Homo sapiens: one gene and its partners. The protein of the gene in region 2 purifies or fractionates together with the protein of the main gene of each other region. This does not show direct contact. Each region holds a gene or a part of one and is shown on either strand. Other genes may lie near its edges.

Region 1 (2,497 bases), on a different chromosome or scaffold from region 2:
ACCCAAAAAACCAAGCCAAGAGGTAAGCAGGCCAGCTGGAAATGGAGCACAACCCACAGTTAAGGCAGGGAAGTGGTAGAGAGGGAGTCTGCAGGTAGCTGGACCTCACTGCCCATCTCAGTGCCAGGACCTGAGAAAACAGGCAACACTCACCCATAGTGTCATGGGGAGCTGGAACCCCTTTGCTTCTCTGTACTGAATTATAAAATCTGAGGTGAAAGATGGAAGGTTTTAATTTCTTAGCCAAGAAGGATGGCTTTCTGGAGAAGGTAGACTCTGAGGAGAACTGTAAAGAGAAGAAGATCCAGGGGATAAAAGAAAAAAAGAGAATTGGGGGGAAAAGATGTTGAAAAAGAGCCAGAGGCCACCAGGAAAACTCACTAGATTGCAACTGAGCAGAAGATGTGGGGCAGGGCAGAAACTCAATGTGCAGTGTCCATCTGCCCTTGCCGAGTTGTCGTTTAGAGAGAAATAAACGCATTTCCCTCACGGCTAGGGCTTGGGGGTGATGCAGGCACAGCAGATGGCCGAGGCAGGACACTGCAGAGGAAGATAATGAAGAGATCTCTAGGCAGGAAATCCACAGCTCCTCCTGCACCCAGAATGGGAAGGAAAGAAGGCCAAGGGAATTCAGATTCTGACCAGCCAGGTAAGGCTCAAGGCCTGGGAAAAACTAAGGGGAATGAGGTGCCTGTCAGCATCTCCCCTCCCTGAATCATTTCTTAACCATTTTACAGCTTTTCATTACTTTACAGAATGAATGAAAATTAGAATGAAAGAGCGTCTCGGACTGCACCCAGCACACACTATAGAAACAGAATGATTCCTGATTTGATTTGGCCCAGGGGCAGGAGAATGGTAGAAGAGAAGTAACACTTAATCAGTATTGCCAAGGGCTGGCTAAAGAGATACTTCCATGCCTGCTCCTTTAAATTTTTTTCAATAGCTCTCTCACTGGATATTCCCATTTTAGATATTAGAAAACTGAGGCTCAAAGGATTTAAAAAGTGCTCAAGGCTGGTGACTAGCATAGGGCAGACGGCTTGACTCTCTTTCTGATCCCAAAGTCCATATTCTTTGTATTGAGAAAGGTCATCTTTTCCAGAGATTTCTTGGAAATAGAGATTTAGGAGTTTGACTTATAAAAGGTAAGGACAGGCTGACCTAATAGGACTCTTGGCTTTGTCACCTTCTCATTTAGGCCCTAAGAAAAAATTTAAAGCTCCCCAGAGCAAGGCCTTGGCAGCCAGCTTTTCAGAGGGAAAAGAAGTTAGAACAGTGCCAAAGAACCTGGGCCTATCAGCGTGTAAGGGGGCCTGCCCCTCATCTGCGAAAGAAGAGCCCAGACACCGGGAACCCCTGACCCAGGAGGCTGGAAGTGTCCCCCTTGAGGACGAAGCCTCCAGTGACCTGGACCTGGAGCAACTCATGGAAGATGTTGGGAGAGAGCTGGGGCAGAGCGGGGAGCTGCAGCACAGCAACAGTGATGGCGAGGACTTCCCCGTGGCGCTGTTTGGGAAGTAGCTGGTGCTCCTCTGCTCCCTCTTTTTCTCCCTTCTCTGGGGCGCAGGAGGGAGAAGTTGCTAAGTGCTGGGTCTGTTCATTGGCTATGAGGTTCAAATGTGTGTGGTGCAGTTTCTGTGTTAATAAAGCAGGTTACAGTCGACTGGGTTGGCTGGTCTCTAACTGCCCCCTGTTGGCTGCTCTCCCTCCTCCGTGTCACTGTGGCGCGTCACTGCTTCTAGCGGGAGCCTGCACAGTGCAGGCATCTGGGGAAGGCAGTGAGACCTGAGTCCTAGAGGACTTCAAGAAGGGCAGATCTGGGTTCAAATCCGGGCTCGGCTCCTCACTAGCTACCTCCATGGCCTGGGGAAAAGCATGTTCACCATCCTGGTTCTGCTCTTCATCTTACAGCGAGTGCGTTCTCTACCTTATAGGGTTGTGAATGATGTCAAATGTGATGCTCTCATTGTCACCATAGGGAAGACTGTGATCGGATTTGAGGACAGGCTTTGGGTTTGGGCTGGCTACCAAGGTTTGGGGGCTTATGTTCCCTGGCCCAAGGAAGTCACTAAAAAAAGTACTAGAGGAAGGGTCTTGGGTGTGAGTTCTCTGTTAGAATTCATTTTCAGTGGGAGAGACAGGAGTTGAAGGTGATGTCAGTTTTCTCCTTACATTCAGGTAAGTTTTGGGGGTACTTTTAGTTTTATGGGCCAGGGTTGGGAAGGTGAAGAGGGAGTTGGAGTAGATGGCTCTCTTTCTGTCAGTTCTCTGGCTGGCCTCTGAGTCATCTGTGTGGCCTTGGTTATTGCTGGAAGCTGTGGCCCTTTCTATTGGAAGCGTAGCGTACTCGTAAGAAGGTCATTGTGCAGTCTTATTTTTACTTGTTTCTCTCTGTACTTGAATGGATGCAGATTTTAAAAATAGTTTTGAAGACAATCTTTTTAAATTTGTTACTTTATTGTTAATATATATTTTTAACTAGAGATGGCATCTC
Region 2 (5,601 bases):
ACACACACCTGTATATCATAAAACATTAAGATCAGTATTTGTTATATATGGTGACACATTGACAATAGAATCACCTTTATTTTAATTCTCAGTGAGCATTGTTGCAAAAAGTTGTGATAATGGTGTTACAATAATCAAAAGTACTCTGAAGAGCTAAAACTGGTGATTTGAATGTTTGTAGACTCTAGATTAACAGTTTTGTTGAAGAGTGTGGTTCCAGTAGCTACTTAGTGAAAACAGTGACTGTGAAGTAATGGTGACCTCTCTAAACGCAATTATTTGCTTACCTATTTCCTTTAATTCACACTATGGTTATATATAAAATTGTGGTTTGATTTCATATTAGAACAAAAGTGTTAAAATTACACTTTACTTGCCTTCAAAAGTTTTTTAAAAAATTAAATTCTGGGGGGTGTTCAGTGGAAGGAAAATAGCTTATTGACACCCAGAAATAATTGTAATGTCACCATGTTGAATTATGGTTTGAGAATAATTTCCTTCTGTATTCTTAGAGTTTGTTTTCATATGGGTATGTGTGACAAGGATTTTTTTTTGTAAATGCAGTTGGAAATAATCTCTTAAAAAGGTTGAGTTGTTTCAAATGGTGATGTTATGTTTTTCAAAGCAATTTCGTTACAATTTGCCTTTTCCATCATGCATTGTGGGTTAATATTAATTTTATTAATATTCCAGCAATAGCAGTGTCATCCATTAATTGGCTACCAAAAAGAGGAATATTGAATTATATTCTGAGGGTGGTTAAGAAATTATGGAAATGTTTATTAGAATATGATTTTGGAGTTTGAAATAGTCTAGCTAAATCTTTTCAGTAGATTTGTGTTCTGATTTAGGAGGAAGAAGCCATGAACAAATTTGTTACTGAAAAATAGCATGCTTGTCAGTTTGGAAAACCATCTTTTTTCCTCCCTTTGCTGCTTTTAGTCTGGCAAGAAGAATGTAGTGTAATATACGATGATGATGGGCCTGGATTTGGGGGCATTTCTAATTTCACATATTCTGTGTTGTCATCAGACCATACCCCGGTTACTCATGGTACATATGAATGTTTCAAAGTCTAGCTGAAGTTTTCTTTTATGCGATGACACTATGAGAAAACCATTTGTGGACCAAAAATGATCACTATTTCTTTTTTCTAGATAAGAAAGAAAATCTGTGGATTCTTAGTAAATGGAGAAGTGAGTGCCTTCTCTCCTAATGTTTAAATAATAAGTGTAAATATGGAAATCAGATCACCCTTTAAGCTGGATAACCTCGTGCAAGAGAATGCTTTTAACATATGCTGATTTGCAAGCCCCAGTAAAGGAAGGCTGCTTGACTCTGTAGTCAGATCTTGATTCAGATCCAGCTCCACTGCTGACAGAGTTGAGATATCTCCTGTAAAATGAGATAGAATTACACTACCTGCCCCGTGTTGGAATTAAATGAGATAGCGAGTGTAAAAGTTCTAACACACTGCGTGAAGCTTCATGTGCGAAAATGCGTATTGCCTGATCTCCCTGCATCCCTTCTGGCTTTTGTTTCTTCTTTCCTCTGAAGATTATGTAGGTACCCTGCCCAGTACCCATACGTTTAGTGTTTGTGACCAAAAGGATTTCGTATAATGTATCAATAGAGAATGCTTAATGTGTTTGTTTTGGATAAAATATCCCAGCATCTTAAATTCATTGTCAGATTATACATAAAACGCTTAATTGGCTGTTTTAAAACATTAGAATTTTGATCTTCAACCATAGTTTGTTTCTAATCTCCATAATCTCCCCAAATATTTTTCTAAAGATTCAAGTTAAATATAAATAGTTTCCCAATCTTCAGTGAATTCTGTCTTTTAGGGATTGACTGTGGGAGTGGTCTCTAAGATATAGTATTTGAAATTTAAAGTTAGAAGAATACTTCTGTAATCTACCTTGAATAGGTATTTTAAAATAGCTTAATTTCTGAAGAAAAGTTTTTAAATATTTTAATATTGAAGGTTATTTTAATATTTTAAAGTAACTTTAGTTAATCTGTAATTTTTAAAATACTTTGATTTGGTGTGAAATTAATGATTTTCTCGTGTATAGTTTATCTGTGTGCCTTATAATAAATGGACCTTGTGTCCAGTTTATTATAATTAAGAGTGTAAATCCATTTGTTAATTAGTAAATCTTACACATAGCACACGATATAGGTTGGTACTTATTTAATAAGTACTAAATTTTTATATAGATGCTTTATACTTTAATAATATTTATATTTACAGAATTTAATTGATATTTACTGAATTTAATATTTTAATTATTAATTATCTTAGTCGAGATGAAATCATAAGCATATGAGTTAAAAATATTAGCTCCTTTGTGAGGTGGAATACCATATTTAAACATTGGTGTATGAAGGCAGGTAATTTACTTCATCATTATTTTAACAAGTGATGTTGATAAAAGCCAGAGGAACAAACATGGGTGAAAAACATATTAATTAATCAAACTTCTAGTAAATACCAACCCGGGCATGTCTTTTTATGGTTGTCTTGAATTAATACTAATTTTACTTCCTTACACAAAAATACAAACTTCAAAAACAAAATAAACAAGAAAACATGAAAACATAAAAAGGAAACAAAGCAAAAACAAAACAAAAACCTTTAATATATGGACTTAAAAAAATTCTCACCATTATTAAAATTATATGCTTGAGAAAGGTTTTCAGTAGTGGTCAGTAAGTTTATACTGCATGAGCTGGACATTTTTACTTTGTTACTTGCGTGACCAGCAGCATGCATGTGCAGGTTGACGTGGATTCATTTGAGGCATGATTTGTGACACTTGGAACAAAGGGCTGCTTCCCATTCGACCTGGTAAAAGAAATTGTAACTTTTGGGCTTAATAAAACAAGCGGCTCTTGCATTGACTAATACTATATTTGCCTGTTTCACCTCTCGTCCTCATCCTTAGCTGTCCATCTTCTACATAGAAATTGGAATTATATTTCTAAAATTCAGATCTATATGTCATTTCTTCTTAAAGAAAAAAAAAAAAACAACTTTTGAAGGCGTATGAGATCAATAGAGTGGCAGTAATGTAAGGGATAGAAGATTGGCCTGTAAAATCAGACTTCCTGGCTGGGCGCGGTGGCTCATGCCTGTAATTCCAGAACTTTGGGAGGTGGAGGCGGGCAGATCACCTGAGGTCGGGAGTTTGAGACCAACCTGGCCAACGTGGTGAAACCCCGTTTCCACTAAAAATACAAAAATTAGCCGGGCATAGTGGCTCACACCTGTTATCCCGCCACTCTGGAGGCTTAGGCACGAGAATCGCTTGAACCCAGGAGGCAGAGGTTGCAGTGAGCCGAGATCGTGCCACTGCACTCCAGCCTGGGTGATAGAATGAGACTCCATCTCCAAAAAAAAAAAAACAACAACAACAACAACAGACTTCCCATCCTAAGTTAAAATACCCACTGTTCTTACTGTGTTCTTATTTAGTTACTTGCACTTTGTGTTCTTCAGCAAGTTCTTATGATTTTTGAGGCTTAGTGTATAAAATAGTAATTATAACATTATTTCATACAGTTTTTGAGAGGATTAAATGAGGTGTGTATTATAAAGTGCAGTGCCTGGTATATAACCTGCATTAATTTTCCTCCTACCATTACTATCGTTACTACTACTGCTATTGCTGTTAGTCATGGCTCACTTTATAATATGATTCCATCGTGTCTTTTGAGGCTCATTTTCAGCCATCACCTTTCAGTTTCTATGCCCTAGTCAAAGCCAGCTATTAGCGCTAATCTGAAAAGGCCATATGTTTTCATACTGATGACTACTACTTTTATTTTCCCAGCCCAGACTTCTCTTGAGTTTGATATTCACTTGGAAGTCTAGTTGGAATCTCAAGTATAATATAAATGATGTGGGTAAAATATAGCTATTTTTCCCTCTTCCCCCAACCTTCTTCCTACCCCTAAACCCTGGTGTCTCTGCTGGCATTCCCCATATCCATAAATGGCAGTACCCAAGCCAAAAACTTAAGATATTATTCTTGATTCTTTCCATTTCTCTTAAGTCCAATCCATCCCCACGTCCTGTTGCACCTTCACAATTTGCCTTGAGCAGTCCACTGCTCTTAGTCTTCGTTGCCACCTCTTTATTTGAAGCCATCATTCTCTTGCATGAAGTACTGCAGTAATTTTCTAAGTGGGCTGCTTCTTTTTCTTCTTGCTCCATAGAAGTTTTTTTTTTTTTTTTTTTCTTCACACAGCAGCCTGAGAATTATTTTAAGAGCCTATATTGGATCATATCATTTCTCTGCTTAAAATCTTCTGGTGACTTCCCATTCCTCTCAAAATCAAGTCCTCCATTCTGTGGCCTAAATGGCCCTGAATGAGCTTTCTCCTTCTCATCATTCTTCCCCTCATTCATCACATGTCAGCCACGAAGGCCTCTCAGTGTTTCTTAAACCCTCTGCACCCTTTTTTCTTCTAGGGCCTTTTGCACTTTCTGTACTCCCTCCTTGGGATATTCTTCAAATGTCTGGCTTGGCTAAACACTTTGGAGTTTGGCCCAAATCTCACTTCTCACTCAGAGGCCTAATCTGACCATCCTATTTAATATTGCAGTCTGTCATTTTACTCTCTTACACAGATTATTTCCTTCAAGACAATTGTAATTTGTGTATACCTGGTTTGTTTAGTTATTGCTTATTTATGGTATTTGTCCATTACCTGAATGTAAACTCCATAAAGGCAGAGGCCTTGTTCATCTTACTCTTAGCTGTATCCCCAGGCATTAGCATGCCGCCTGGCATTTGGAAGATAGTAAATATTTGATGCTTCTGTATCTTTGTTCCTGTTTTTTGCCAATGATTGGAATGCTGTCTTGCACACATAGTTATAGTTATTGAACTACTTATCCTTTAAGTCTTAGCTCAGATGTCATCTGTGATACCAGTTTTAATCTCCTAGACAAAAGTTTTTTGCTCTTGCTCTTGTGTGCTTCTAAAGCCCATGATACATGCACTATTTGTAGAGTAAATCCCATGTTAGGTATTTAGAATATTATTTGATTATTTGAATATAATTGATGTCACTGTCTTCTATTAGGCTGAATTGCTATGTCAAGGACCAGCTGGCTCTTTTGTGTGCTCAGTATCTACCAACCAACCTATTATAGTAGATATAGTGAATTCTCAGTAAATGTTGAATTGAGTAGAAGTTGTCCTAATCGGCCGGGCGCGGTGGCTCACGCCTGTAATCCCAGCACTTTGGGAGGCCGAGGCGGGCGATTCACGAGGTCAGGAGATCGAGACCATCCTGGCTAACACAGTGAAACCCCATCTCTACTAAAAATACAAAAAATTAGCCGGGCGTGGTGGTGGGCACCAGTAGTCCCAGCTATGCGGGAGGCTGAGGCAGGAGAATGGCGTGAACCCTGGGAGGCGGAGCCTGCAGTGAGCCAAGATCGCGCCACTGCACTCCAGCCTGGGCAACAGCGAGACTCCGTCTCAAAAAAAAAAAAAAAAAAAAAGAAGTTGTCCTAATCAACGGAAATAACCAACCACAGACCAGTTTTCCCAAATCACACTTTAAAAATCATAAAGGTAC
Region 3 (3,746 bases), on a different chromosome or scaffold from region 2:
CTCCCTGGGATTTTCTCCTGCTTTAGAGTTTTGTTTCATTTTTTTATTGTCTTGATTTCCCAGTAGCAGCCTTGCCCTAAAGCTTGACTGAGTTTATGGCTCCTAAGGAGCTTTCCTAAGACTCTTGACTATTTTTCTTCCCCCTTCAGTCAAGTGTTTTTACAGTTAAGAATTAATTTGTAACTGCATACATGCCCTGCCAGTCTGTCCCTGTGTTGGGTGGCTAATTTATGTAGCGGGTCTTTTTTATTTCTTAGCCCCCATGACTAATTATCTAGTCCTAACTTCATTTTTATCAGTGGGAAGATGTGTACGGGACCTCAGTGAGGAGCACTGCCAGAACCACAGTAACAAAATGGCACTGAAATAAGGAAGCAGCAGGTCAGAACCCCCTAGATAGTTCTTGAGTTGGTTCTCAGTCTCACTAAGGAGGCAGAATAATTGCTGCCCTGAAACTTCTCTGATAGTCAAAGGTAACTTCACTTACCTTGTTATTGCTACCAGCCATGTGGTCACTCTCCCCAAATCTTTGTCTTCCAGATCCATCTGGACCAGAACCAAACATCATGGAAGGTGTCACTTGGCCCTTCCTAAAGTCCATGGCGTTTCTAGAGGCCTAAGGGAGGACACTTTCAGAAAGGAGCTGAGTGTATGGTGGGTGTCCTGAATTCGTTCATGTGAATACAGGACTCAGGCTTCCCACCCCACTCCAATGTGAGTGCTCGATACACAAGCACTCTAGCTAGCTGCCACGTACCCAAGGCCACAGAGGGAGGGGACAGAACCAGGTCTTCTGGTCTGCTCACTTTCTGCCCCATTCCCCTAACAGAAAGTTTGCTTAGAGTTGAAAAGTCTAAGAAAGCCTCCCACAATACTAGAGAGGCCAACAAAAAAAAAGTCATGCCCCCTTTACTTACTCTTTTGCTGCTGGTTATGCATCTCAAATCTGACTTCCTTAGCCTTCACCTCCCTCCTTGGCCCTAAGCATTAGACCATGTACTCTAAGTAGTGGTTAAAGAGGGACTGAGCAAACTGAACCTCCTCTCGCTCACTTCTCTATCCCTGTTCTGTTGGTTTTGGCTCCTTTCTTGATTCACTGCCCTCTAGCACCACCCATCCTGGTAGATGGAGTGCTTAACCCCAACCGTGCCCTATGTACAGCCTGAACCACCAAACAGACACCAAAAAAATTCTTCCTGTGGTTTCTGGGGCTCCCCTGCTCCACACTGAGAGGCTCCTTAAAGGTGCTAGCCCCTGATACAGCTATCCCCGCCAGTTTTCTCCTTTTTTCATAACTTCCTTCCCATCCCCAAATCATTAATTTTTCATTAATATTGTACATTATATACACAGGAAGGAAATACATTATTTTTTTTAAATTTCATAACCAGCCTGTTTAGATTCCAGTCTTCCTAGCTATATCACATATGCCTTGTTGATATGCTCTTTCTGCTTTCTTTAGACTTAATGTTTGACGGGGGTGGGGGTGTCTGGAAGAACAGGAAAGGTGGGGATCCTAAGGCAGATTAAAGGACTCCCTCCACCCCACTACAGCCTCCCATAACTCTAGTCATCCCTCTCATAGTACAGGACTGATTTCTCTGTGTCTGTTTGTACACACAAATGTGCATACAGACATAAATTCCCCCACCCCATACCAAGGTGGTTACCTAGCAGGAATGAGCGTAGGTGGCTGCTGGCCACCATTACCACCGTCTGCATCAGCTGTGTTGTCTCTCTTTGGGGTAAAGTCCTACCCCAGAATGAGAAAAGGCTGGGGAGAGTAGGGCAGGTTAAAGGAGCTTATGTCCTCTGTAGATGTAGGTTTGTATCATAGCTACTAGGGTTTATTTTTTTAATGGGGGGCTAATAGCACAGAGTTATCTCACCAGCAGTAGCTACTGGTGAGTGATGTTTTAGCTGTAAGAAGTGGCTATGAGCAATAGTTTCACTGACTTTACCTTAGGGCAGTGCCACAGTAATCTGGGAACTTGTTAGAAATACACATTCTCAGGCCCCATCCCAGACTTATTGAATCACAGACTCTGGGGGCAGGGTTTAAAAGCACTCCAAGTGATTCTAATGCACACTAAAGGTTGAGAACCATTTCTTAGGGATAAGCTGGGAAATTTTTACAGGTGTGGAGGATATTTCAAATACATCTTTTGCCTTTGCACTAACATGCTTTCATTTCTTTCAGTCTCTTCCTCCATTCCCTTTAAAGTCTTCCCCATCATATCACTGATCTCAAAAGCTAGATTTGTCTTCATTTTAGTCGTATCCCTAAAACCATGCATTGGTCTGGACAGGAGTTGTCCCATATTCCCTTGCAGACTGGTCACTCCATGTTCTCTGTTACAGTAAGGACCAGCCAAGCTTCAGCTGTCCCATTCCTCCCCCTACAACACACACACCTTTCAGGCAGGGAGGAGATGAGCTTCCAGCCCCAAGAGTGGAGGCTGCCACATCCTAACATAGTATCTATTGAAAAGGAAGCAGTGTGTATCTATGATTATATCTCTGTTCATCTATATATTTTTGACATGTAGCAACACCTCTCCATCTTATCAAGGAACTCAACTCGGTCTGGGTCTCCCCAGTGCCCAGTGGTGGCCTTTGACAGGTAGGAGGATGCAGTGCTGCAGGCTATTTTGTTTTTTGTTACAAAACTGTCTTTTCCCTTTTCCCCTCCACCTGATTCAGCATGATCCCTGTGAGCTGGTTCTCACAATCTCCTGGGACTGGGCTGAGGCAGGGGCTTCGCTCTATTCTCCCTAACCATACTGTCTTCCTTTCCCCCTTGCCACTTAGCAGTTATCCCCCCAGCTATGCCTTCTCCCTCCCTCCCTTGCCCTGGCATATATTGTGCCTTATTTATGCTGCAAATATAACATTAAACTATCAAGTGAACCACTGTTATGTCTGATGCTTCACTCCTCTATCCACAGCCCCCATTGTCCCCTTTTCTGGGAGGTCACTGGCCTTTCATGTCTGTCATCTTCATCACTCCCCCATTTCTTAGGACAGAAGGAACAGGGATTTTTGTCTCTAGTTTTTATACATGGGAGATACAGCCTAGAGAAAGTGGATGATTTCTATAAATTACAAAGTATGACAGAAGGCCCAGGGCAGAGCTCCTGTGGACTGCCTTGGAGACAAGGGCCCTTGGCATCCTGGCAGCAAGTACTCACAGGAAACTTAGTATGTGCTTTATGTGGATGGCGGGTGGGAGAGTTGCTGATGGCAAATGGCCTTTTACTTTTCAGTGTTTTGTTGCCAACCCCCACCCAACCATTAAAAAGTGGCTGTTGTGACCAGGGAGCACACACACAGACAAAGACGGAAAGTATAGCTTTCTATGGTAAGGAGGAGGCTGGTCTGGAAATGAGGGGTAGAGTTTACTTAGAAGCAGGTAAGAAAACCGGGCATGGTGGCTCATGCCTGTAATCCCAGCACTTTGGGAGGCTGAGGCGGGTTGATCACCTGAGGTCAGGAGTTTGAGACCAGCCTGGCCAACATGGAGAAACCCCGTCTCTACTAAAAATACAAAAATTAGCCAGGTGTTGGTGGCGGGCGCCTGTAATCCCAGCTACTCAGGAGGCTGAGGCAGGAGAATCACTTGAACCTGGGAGGCAGAGGTTGCAGTAAGCTAAGATCGTGCCGTTGCACTCCAGCCTGGGCAACAAGAGTGAAACTCCATCTCAAAAAAAGCAGGTAAGAGTTCACAAGAAAAACAGGTAATGCTC
Region 4 (3,831 bases), on a different chromosome or scaffold from region 2:
GGTGGCAGGTGCCTGTAATCCCAGCTGCCTAGGAGGCTGAGACAGGAGAATCACTTGAACCCAGGAGGTGGAGGTTGTAGTGAGCTGAGATCACGCCACTGCACTTTGTTGCCTGGGCAATAAAGAGTGAAACTCCATCTCAGAAAAAAAAAAAAAAAAAGATAGCTGGGCATGGTGGCATGCACCTGTGGTCCCAGCTACTCAGGAGGCTAAGGAAGGAGAATCACTTGAGCCCAGGATGTCAAGGCTGCAGTGAGCTGTGTTCACGCCGCTGCATTCCAGCTTGGGCAATAGAATGAGACTTTATCTCAAAAAAAAAATCTCTTCAGGGAATTGATAGACAAACATGTGAGCGCACGCACACACACAGCAAATAGCAAAATAGAAATCAGAGTACTGGTTTATTTATCAGTAGTTAAGTAGTTATGGTGTATACCACTTTCATCACCAAGTTAGGACATAACTGATGAAAGCTAAATTGGGTAATGTGGCTTAATCCAGAAAGTTTAAATGATGGCTCTTGTTCCTGCCCTTGTGTCCATGATCTCATATACTTAACCAGTTGCAGAGCAGGCAGTTCATTTCAGCCATCCATTCAGAAGCAGAAGAGGATGGCTGGAACTGCTAAGGCAGGCCCTGCCTTAGTCTAAATCTTGGAAAGAGATAGGAAAAGCAGCAGAGGACACACTGCATGTATGCACTGACCTGTGGCAGTACCATGTTCCTGACTCCAGTGGGAAAAAAAAAAAAGAAAGATACAATATGAATATTACACATTTGTTCAAAGCCATAGAAAGTACCACACCAAGAACAAACCCAAATGTAATCTGTGGACTTTGGACAATTATGATGTGTCAACATAGGTTCATCGATTGTAACACATGTACCACTCTGGTAGGGGATGGTGATAATGAGGGAGGCCATGTATGTGTGGGGGCACAAGGGATATATGGGAAACTTCTGTACCTTCCTTTCAATTTTGCTGTCAACCTAAAGCTGTTAAAATATCTTTTTAAAAAAGTTTAAATTAAAAAAACACGACAGTGAATGCCAGGCTTTTACCCAGCAGATTCACAATAATTCCTATAGGAATCCATTTAAGAAAGGGTTGAGAATGTGAAATGATGGATATGTTAATTTGTTTCACTGTAAGAACCATTTTACTATATACTAATATCATATTTTATACCTTAAATATACACAATAAAATTTATTTTTTTAATAAAGGGGTGAGAAAAGGTTATCAGAAATGCAGAATAAAAGTTCTCTCCTGTAATGACTTGAAGTGAAAGGTAGAAATGTCCACCTCCCAGCCCCTTTTCAACACACAGTTTTGTTTAGTACCCACATGGAACTCTTTATTTCACTGCTGGAGCATATGAAATCTGTTCTTTAGACGTTAGTTTCCATCATTTTGGGGACTTTGGTGTTATTAGTAGTGATTATGGTATATTTACTTTTAGTTACCAAACTTTATGTGCTAGTCATTACCTTTGTGTTGTTGTTATTGTCCAACTTTGACACTTGTCCTGCAGCTAAAATAAAAAATAATCATTTTTGAAAAATATTTTTGAAATATGAAACTGTAGGCCGGGCACGGTGGCTCACGCCTGTAATCCCAGCACTTTGGGAGGCCAAGGTGGGCAGATCACAAGGTCAGGAGATCGAGACCATCCTGGCCAACATGGTGAAACCCCATCTCTACTAAAAATACAAAAATTAGCTGGGCATGGTGGCATGAGTCTGTAATCCTACTCGGGAGGCTGAGGCAGGAGAATCACTTGAACCAGGGAGTCAGAGGTTGCAGTGAGCTGAGATCGCACCACTGCACTCCAGCCTGGTGACACAGCAAGACTGTCTCAAAAAAAAAAAATGAAACTGTATATTCAATATAGAAAATTTAGGAAGTATGAAAGAAGAAAAAATAAAAATTACATCATTTTTCCATGTAGTAACAGCCACCATAATATTTTGATGTGTATTCTGTTTTCTTTTTTAAAAAGTATAGTTTTTAGTTTGTTTTGTTTTGTGAAGTGTGATCTTACTATAGTCACAGTATTATATCCAAATTTTTCACTTAACATTATATTGTAAACATTTTCCAAATGAGTTTCTTGAATATTTTAATCGCTGCATATGTTGCATCATGTATATATTATTGGACAGAAAGGTTGTTTGCAATTTTGCCACTATAGATATTATGTATATTATTATGTATGTTAAGAAGATATTAGCATTTTCTTCTTAAAGCATTTCTTGTATTTTGGAGTTTTTCCTTATAGCCCTAGAAGTAGGATTACTGAAAAATTTAAGGCTCTTGATACATATTAGGAGATTTTTTTTCCCAGTGGGTTATAGCAATTACCATGCTGCTGACAATATGTAAGAAAACTGAATTCACCACACCTCACCATTTTTTTTTTTTTTTTTTTTTTTTGAGACAGAGTCTGGCTCTGTCACCCAGGTTGGAGTGCAGTGGCGTGATTTCGGCTCACTGCAAGGTCCGCCTCCCTGGTTCACGCCATTCTCCTGCCTCAGCCTCCCGACACCTCACCATTTTTTATTCTTGACCTCATTATGACTTCTCTATCCTTAGTATTAGAGTTGGGTATGGTCACTTGGTATGTGTATTCATTTCCTTCAACAGCATTAATTCTGTTTCTGTTTTTTCACATTGCCAAGAGTGGATGCAGGGACAGTGCTGGATGCTGGTTATGGAGTTAACTAGTAGGGGCTTAAGTCTTTTCATATAAAGGAGACAGAGTAGCCCTAATGCTCTTCTTTCAGCTTCAAATCTGAAAACATGATCCAGTTAGTGGATTTTACATAGAGAGTGATGGGGACATTTGGGGAATCATGCCCTAAGAGAAGTGATTGAAAAAACTATGAATTAACTTTATATCCATAATAAAGTTAACATGAAGAAGTAGAATTATTTTATGTTGCTGTAGTAAGCAGAAATAGTATCAAGGGATTGGAGAAAGACAGAGGTTTCACTTAATATTTATAACTATTGGAAATGAAACCAGACTGTTTTCATTAGTGATTTCCCACATATTCATGCATTGGTAACATTTAAGCCATGCATCCTGTGGGCTCTGCCAGCTCCTAAGTTATGTCAGTGTTAATCCCTGCCATGGAATGGGAAGAAAGAATTAGAGTAATTTACCTCAGTTGGTATTTTTTTTAATGTTTAAGGGAATTTGAGAGTACGAAGATTCATTTGAATTGACTGGCTTTGTTAAACTACAGATACTGGAGAATATAGGAAGAAGCTATGAATAATATCCAGGGACATAGTATTTGAATGATAAATTCATTGTTTTTATTCATATGTGGTAATAATGGAAAATTTATTTTAAGATTAGGAGAGGAAAGGAATCTGAAAAGTTTGTGTCATCTCCTTGAAGGACAGAAGGCTTCATGGGGCATTAAAATAAAACAAAAAATACCTTCTCTCCCTAAGATTAATGGTACCTTCCAAAGGAAATTAAGTAGTAGTCATATACCTGTGAGGAAAAGCATATTGAGACTAAAGATAGAATGTACCTGCACAATATAGAGGGGGCAGGGAAGATAGACATGGACATTTTTGAGACTCCAAAAGGGACTTTATCTAGGATATGGAGTTAAATATTTTGGTAATTGCTCTTTGAAACAAAACAGTTGTTCTAAAATATGTTATTATAGGGAGATTGGTGGACGGCTCCTCATGGTAGAAACTCGACTTGCAAATGATCTGGCTGAGTTTGAGGGAGACTTTTCCTTGGAAGGACTTCGTCTTTGGAAAACAGCATTCTCAGCAATGACTCAGAATCCAAGGCCAGGGTC

Evidence for each region. Proteins that work in one complex are often made in the same cells at the same time.
Region 1: the proteins of MEF2A (region 2) and ZCWPW1 purify together in Homo sapiens (affinity purification with mass spectrometry; one large-scale study listed by BioGRID and IntAct). This does not show direct contact.
Region 3: the proteins of MEF2A (region 2) and ATF7 purify together in Homo sapiens (affinity purification with mass spectrometry; one large-scale study listed by BioGRID and IntAct). This does not show direct contact.
Region 4: the proteins of MEF2A (region 2) and REV3L purify together in Homo sapiens (affinity purification with mass spectrometry; one large-scale study listed by BioGRID and IntAct). This does not show direct contact.

The regions. Positions count from the first base shown.
Region 1 is NC_000007.14:100,400,041-100,402,537, reverse strand, and holds the end of ZCWPW1 (zinc finger CW-type PWWP domain protein 1), read left to right. Parts: coding exon 1-22; intron 23-496; coding exon 497-649; intron 650-755; coding exon of another isoform or gene 756-760; exon of another isoform or gene 761-1,201; coding exon 1,202-1,524; 3' UTR 1,525-1,666; downstream 1,667-2,497. UniProt on the Homo sapiens protein: Dual histone methylation reader specific for PRDM9-catalyzed histone marks (H3K4me3 and H3K36me3). Facilitates the repair of PRDM9-induced meiotic double-strand breaks (DSBs). Essential for male fertility and spermatogenesis.
Region 2 is NC_000015.10:99,567,784-99,573,384, forward strand, and holds part of MEF2A (myocyte-specific enhancer factor 2A), read left to right. Parts: intron 1-1,157; exon of another isoform or gene 1,158-1,196; intron 1,197-5,601. UniProt on the Homo sapiens protein: Transcriptional activator which binds specifically to the MEF2 element, 5'-YTA[AT](4)TAR-3', found in numerous muscle-specific genes. Also involved in the activation of numerous growth factor- and stress-induced genes.
Region 3 is NC_000012.12:53,511,223-53,514,968, reverse strand, and holds the end of ATF7 (cyclic AMP-dependent transcription factor ATF-7), read left to right. Parts: 3' UTR 1-2,915; downstream 2,916-3,746. UniProt on the Homo sapiens protein: Stress-responsive chromatin regulator that plays a role in various biological processes including innate immunological memory, adipocyte differentiation or telomerase regulation.
Region 4 is NC_000006.12:111,367,888-111,371,718, reverse strand, and holds part of REV3L (DNA polymerase zeta catalytic subunit), read left to right. Parts: intron 1-3,690; coding exon 3,691-3,831. UniProt on the Homo sapiens protein: Catalytic subunit of the DNA polymerase zeta complex, an error-prone polymerase specialized in translesion DNA synthesis (TLS). Lacks an intrinsic 3'-5' exonuclease activity and thus has no proofreading function.